2 separate regions of the Homo sapiens genome follow, and region 2 is linked to region 1. Evidence: fine-mapped expression QTL. Tissue or cell type: transverse colon. Region 1 holds a variant in brackets; the other region holds the start of a gene. All regions are shown on one strand. Distances are from middle to middle.

The links. PIP is the estimated chance that this variant, and not a neighbour inherited with it, causes the effect.
Region 2: THY1 starts here. The variant in region 1 is fine-mapped to the expression of THY1 in transverse colon (GTEx, PIP 0.97).

Annotation. Positions count from the first base shown.
Region 1 is chr11:119,459,647-119,462,400 of GRCh38, forward strand. All of the region lies in intron 2 of USP2-AS1 (USP2 antisense RNA 1), which reads left to right. Among named protein-coding and RNA genes, the nearest start is that of THY1, 38 kb to the left of the region's middle. The variant G/A (reference allele first, on the strand shown) is at 1,708.
Region 2 is chr11:119,421,719-119,424,472 of GRCh38, forward strand. It overlaps THY1 (Thy-1 cell surface antigen), which reads right to left and starts at 1,454. Exons shown (of 4, transcript NM_006288.5): 1 at 1,395-1,454. All of the region lies in intron 2 of USP2-AS1 (USP2 antisense RNA 1), which reads left to right. RefSeq lists enhancers at 200-766, 767-1,332.

The DNA.
Region 1 (2,754 bases):
GGAGCTGGCTGAAGAGAAGTCAGAAAAGGAATACAGGGAGAAGCAGGAGAGGCCACATCATGCAAGCCGAGGGCATGGCTGTGGCTGGCACCGGGCACTGCGGAGCAGTCGGCAGGAAGCTTGTGTCACTGGACCAGGCTCCAAAGGTCATGGCAGTCTTTGTGGTGCGGCTGGAAAAGCAAGGCCCAGAGGGCACTGGACAGACTGTTGAGAAGATTCAAGGTCATGGGAGGAGGACTTAAAAAATGAAGTGCTGTGTGCAGGTTCTACGCCATGGGGAAGGAGCCATTGGCTGAGAGTGGCTTTGAGGTGGGGAGAGGGAGAGGAGGGAGGCAAGAGGCAAAGGCTGAAGGTTTCGTGGGCGGGTCAGGCAGGGAGTTAGTCGGGGCTGCCTGGAGGGTCCCAGTTGTCTCTGAAGGAGGAAAGACTTGAGCTGGAGCTTGACGGAGGGAAAGCATCAAACAGACAGGCCAAAGGACATCCTGGATTAGGATGAGGAGGAAAAGGAGGGACGAGGTGTGGAGGTGGAAAATTGGCTAGAAAGGGAGGGGATGAATTGCAGAGAGATGGCCTGACAGCGCAGGATGAGCACGGTAGCGAGTGATGGAGAATAGCGTGTCGCTGGCCAGGTCTGGTCACTCCCGAAGGGCTGGGGCCTTGCAGGCCAGGAGGTGGCTCTGTGGGCCGGAGAGCCCTCCCAGCGCACTCAGGTGGGGTGGCTGCCACAGGAGATGGGCGGGGCCCCTTCTTACAGACAGAAGGCAGGGTCCGAGTTGTTCAAATGGGCCCTGATAGTTTGCTTTTCTGCCTTCTCTCTCCTTCTGGATTTGTGGTTTGTTTGTTTTGGTTTCCCCCCCACCACTTTCCCCTGCACCCCACAGTCTCTGGAGACTGAGGCAGGGTCTCCATGTTGCAGTTATATCTCGTGTATTTAATTTGGCCCCCTTAATAAACAGAGGGTGGGGCAGAGGCTGTGAGAGAAGGACAGAATTAAAACCACATCCTGGAGTAATGAGATCTCCGTTTGGCCTCCTTCCCTTCTTTTCCCACTCCCAGGCTCTGCTCCTCTACCCTCCTTTCTTGGAGAGAAACACAGCTCTGCTTGCCTAATGGAAGTCAGTGGGAAAATTCTGTTCACATTCCATATATAGTCGTCACTCAGTATGTGTGGGGGATTAGCTCCAGTACCCCTTGCAGATACCAAAATCCACAGATGTTCAAGTTCCTGATATAAAACGGTGTCGTGTTTGCATGCAACCTCCTGTATACCTTACATCACACATCCTCCTGTATACTTTAAATAATCTCTAGATTACTTAGAATACCTAATACAATATGAATGCTATGGAAATAATTGTTATACTGTATTGTTTACAGAATAATGACAAGGAAAAAAGTCTGTACATGTTCAGTACAGATGCAATTTTTTCCCAAATATTTTCAATCCTTGGTTGGTTGAATCTATGGACACAGAATCCACGGATATGGGGGCTGACTGTATAACCTTGTTGGCATAAACCCATTCCACGGTGAGAGAACTTTGAGGAGTGGAATCTGTGTATGAATATATTTATAATCATGTTTGGATGACTGCAGGCTTGCTCTTGGGCAGAGCAGAGTTGGGCTGTAAAAAAGGATGGGAAGATTTTTCCCATCAATGGAAAACTCCCTGTTTGCCCCGACCCTTAGAGAAGGGAATGGAAGAAA[G/A]CTCTGAGTGATGTGGCCTTTGGGAGACCTCATGGTAGGGAAAAGCCAGAGAGCAGATCTGAGCTGTAGGGAGATGATCTGTACAGGAACTGACTCGTAATAAAATCAAATCTCAATTCTCCAGGCTTAGCATTTACGACTCAAGATTGGATTCTGAAGTCTCATTTGTCTTCCGGGATTCTGCTCCCCTTGGCTCTCTGATACAGGGCTCTATGGCCACTCCCTGCTGGCTTTAGGTGGCTGGCCCAGCCCAGGTTTCACCTGGGATCATTGCCTCAATTTCCCTAAATACAGCTGAGTCAAGATTGGGGTACTTAACACAATATTGTTCAAGGTTCAGGAATGACAAAGGGGAAATAAACATAGGAAGTAACATGAAACCAGCCCAGGTGCCAGGGGCAAGGACAGCTGCTTCTTGTTCCCCCTCCTGCCCAGGGCTCTCTCCCTGGCTCTGGCCCATCACAGAGACCACCTTCTTCCACCTCTCTTGTCCCTGGGACATAGCTTTGCCTTGGGGGCCCCAGAGAACAATTTCCTCAGACAACATCAAATAAGCCTGTAGAAGGGAGAAACACAGACAGTGACACAAGCTTGGCTGGCCACTGCAATCCTTCTTTAGCTGTTTTCCACTCCCCAGCTTCAGTGGCACCAGAGGGTCATGAGGCCATTTGTTAGGACAAGGCATTGTTTGCATCTTGATTTTTTTTTTTTTTTTTGATACGGAGTCTTGCTCTTGTTACCCAGTCTAGAGTGCAATGACACGATCCTGGCTTACTGCAATCTCAGCCTCCTGGGTTCAAGAGATTCTTCTGCCTCAGCCTCCCAAGTAGCTGGGATTACAGGCACATGCCACCATGCCCAGCTAATTTTTGTATTTTTAGTAGAGACAGGGTTTCGCCATGTTGGCCAGGCTGGTCTCGAACTCCTAACCTCAGTTGATCCTCCTGCCTCAGCCTCCCAAAGTGCTGGGATTACAGGCTTGAGCCACCATGCCTGGCTTTTTTTTTTTTTTTTTTTTGAGACAGGGTCTCACTCTGTCACCCAAGC
Region 2 (2,754 bases), 38 kb before region 1:
TACCATTCACCATAGCTAAGGATGCTCCCAGATAGGGAGCATCTATTCCTATCTGGATAGGACACAAGCTAATCGTGTTCCTGGAGGAGAGAAAGACATAGTGATCTCCGATTGTATGTGAGCCAAGGATGCTTCCCAATGTCCAGCTCTCTGGAGTTCCTGGGACTGCAGTTTTCCAGCCCAGTTTCAATAGCCACCCTGGATAGGCTGTCTGCCTGGTCTTTTTTTGTTTTTTGCAGCCTTGGCTGAACCAACCCTTGGCGAGGCGACGCGGAGCCGGTAGTCTAGCCTATCTGCAGAGCAGTGCTCGCCCAGGAGAGGCCACAGAAGGGGCGTGCACCCGCGAGAGCGCGCAGGGCATTGCCTCGGTTGAGTGCGCCCGGGTGCGCAGGGCGCACCACTAGACGAGTTCAGGGTCCCTGGCGCTCAGCCCCTTGACGGGTGAGGCTAGGATCCCGCGGCGGCTGCAGCTACAATCAATGCTCTCTCTGTCCCGGGGTGGAGCTGCTGCCCTGAGCCAGATCCAGGAGGAAGGGGGGTCGGCATCTGGCTTTTGAATCGAGGACTCTTGTTTGAGATGTTGTGCGGGCTTGGGATCTAGGAGGGGAAGGGGGAGCAATGGCCAGAGCAAGAAAGGGAAGAAATGGGTCTGGGGCTGGAGAGGGTAGAAGAGCCAGGGGAGGGGTGGAGAGCGGCTGGGGAGGTGCAGTCTGTATTCATTTCCTCTGGTCTGTGTCCTCAGGCGGCTCCAGACCCAGAGAAGGTCTGCTCTTCCTCCCTCTCAAGCCCCCGGCGGGCCTCATCCTTAATCCATTTCCGTATTCCAATCCTCTCCTTTCCCAAATGAGTCCCCCTTCCCCCTCTCTCATCCTTTTCCAGCTCTCCCCTCCCCCGTCCGCCCGCCTTCCACCCAGTCCCCGCCTGCGGCACTGCGGCTTCCTTCTCCTCCGGTGCCCCGCACCCAGCCCGCCGCGAGGTCACCCGGCAGATTCCCTCTAGCTCGCCATCCTCCATCCTCTCCCCGCAGTTTCATCCGTCCTCCTCCCCGCCTCTGCGAGCTGGGTTTGGGGACGTCTGGGTGGAATGTAGACCCACAGGCTGTCCTTGGTGCCCTTCCTCCCTGTTCTCCAGCGCCCCAGCCCCAGACACCAGTCCCCCAGCGGGCGAAAGCCCGGGAGCGCCTTCCCCGAAAGACATCAGGGTGCCACGCGGCCCCTGCCCTGCAGAAGCATCCCCCTCCCGCCCCTGCCTGGAAAGCAGGCCCCTCCCTAAGCTCTGCGCCCTTCTTCCCTGGGCGCCCTCGGACCGTGGCCCGAAGCCTAGTGTTGGGAAGTCTTGCATGGGCGCCTGACGGCGGTCCCCGAGCCCCAGGTCCCACCGGCTCCAGTTCCCACCTGGACTGGGGTCTTCCGCTGCTGCAGCCTCCTCCAGACGCGCCGCCGCCTCCGGTTGCTGCACCCAGCTCGGAGCCCGCAGTTTTCACCGGGGATGGAGGAGAGGGGGAGCGGGGAGCCGGGGGCTCAGCCAATCAGAGGCGGAGATTGGGGGAGAAAGGACGGCAGGGTGGGGTGGGGGGTGGGGAAGGAAGAGAAGGCGGTCCCGCATTGGTGTGAGAGTGGCAGGTTGCGGCGGAAGGGGGCCCTCACCCTGTGGCTGGCAGGCCTGGCCAGGGACGGGAGGGTTCGGGACCCCGGGGATCAGGGTGCGGCAGCCCAAAGAACATTATCCTCCTCCCTGAGCCCCGCAATGGTTGTTCCCCTTTTAAGGCTTTAACCCTTTCTTCTGACCTATTCTTCAGGAGTCTGTGGGAAAACCAAAGTGTAAGAGGTGCAGGATGCAGGCCGGGAGCGCCCACGCCTCCACATTTCCTTTTCAGCTGGAGCCCACCTCCTCCGGAGCCTCCAGTGAGAAGTTTTGGAATATTCCAGTCTTTCTGAAAGGAAGCTGGTTGGGTGTTTTTCAGTGTTGGAGCAGCCCTTCGGAAGCGAGGCAGGTGCTGGACCCACCCTGTCCGTCCCTGGTCCCCAGCCCCATTTCGCCCCCTCATCTATTCCAGAGCACCCAGCCCTTCAGGGGGCTGCAGGCGCTTTTTGCTCTGGGCATTACGTCTTCTTCAGCCCCTGGGCTGGCACCTTCTGGTCCAGACAGCTGGAAGGTTCTTCTGGCTTTCCTGAGTACAGTCTGCTTGTTTGGTCTTCAGACCAGGAAGGGAGTGTTGCCTTTTAGCAGGCACTGTGCTGGGCACATTACATTCATGGCGACCTTTAACCCATGGCCGCCTGCTGGGTTCATCCCATCTCAATCCTCACCTCCTGTCTTGGCTGGTAAGTGGGAGAGCTGGAGAACTGACCTGGGCTATGGACCCCAGCTCTCAAGGGTGAGCCATTCCTCTTGCTCATCCCTGCCTAGTGGGAGAAGAGAGAGAGGAACTCTGGGAAAGAGGAGGAGACAGCACAAAAAGGACTGAGTCGAGGCCAACTCCTGATCACCTGGGGCACTCCTGATAACCCACCGATTGGATGTCACCAGAAGCCCTAGGCTCATTTTTAGAGACAGTGCTGATGACTTTCTCTCACTCACAGGTGTAGTGAATTTTTTTGAACTAACGTTTATTTGATTGATTTGTATCCTGCCAGCCTCTTTATGAATTCTGATCACGACATTCTGTGGGCCTCCCCAATGTCTGCCTGCCTGTTCTCCTATTTCTTCATGGAAGTCAGCCCTGGCACCTTCCCTGCAGTTTCTGATACTGCA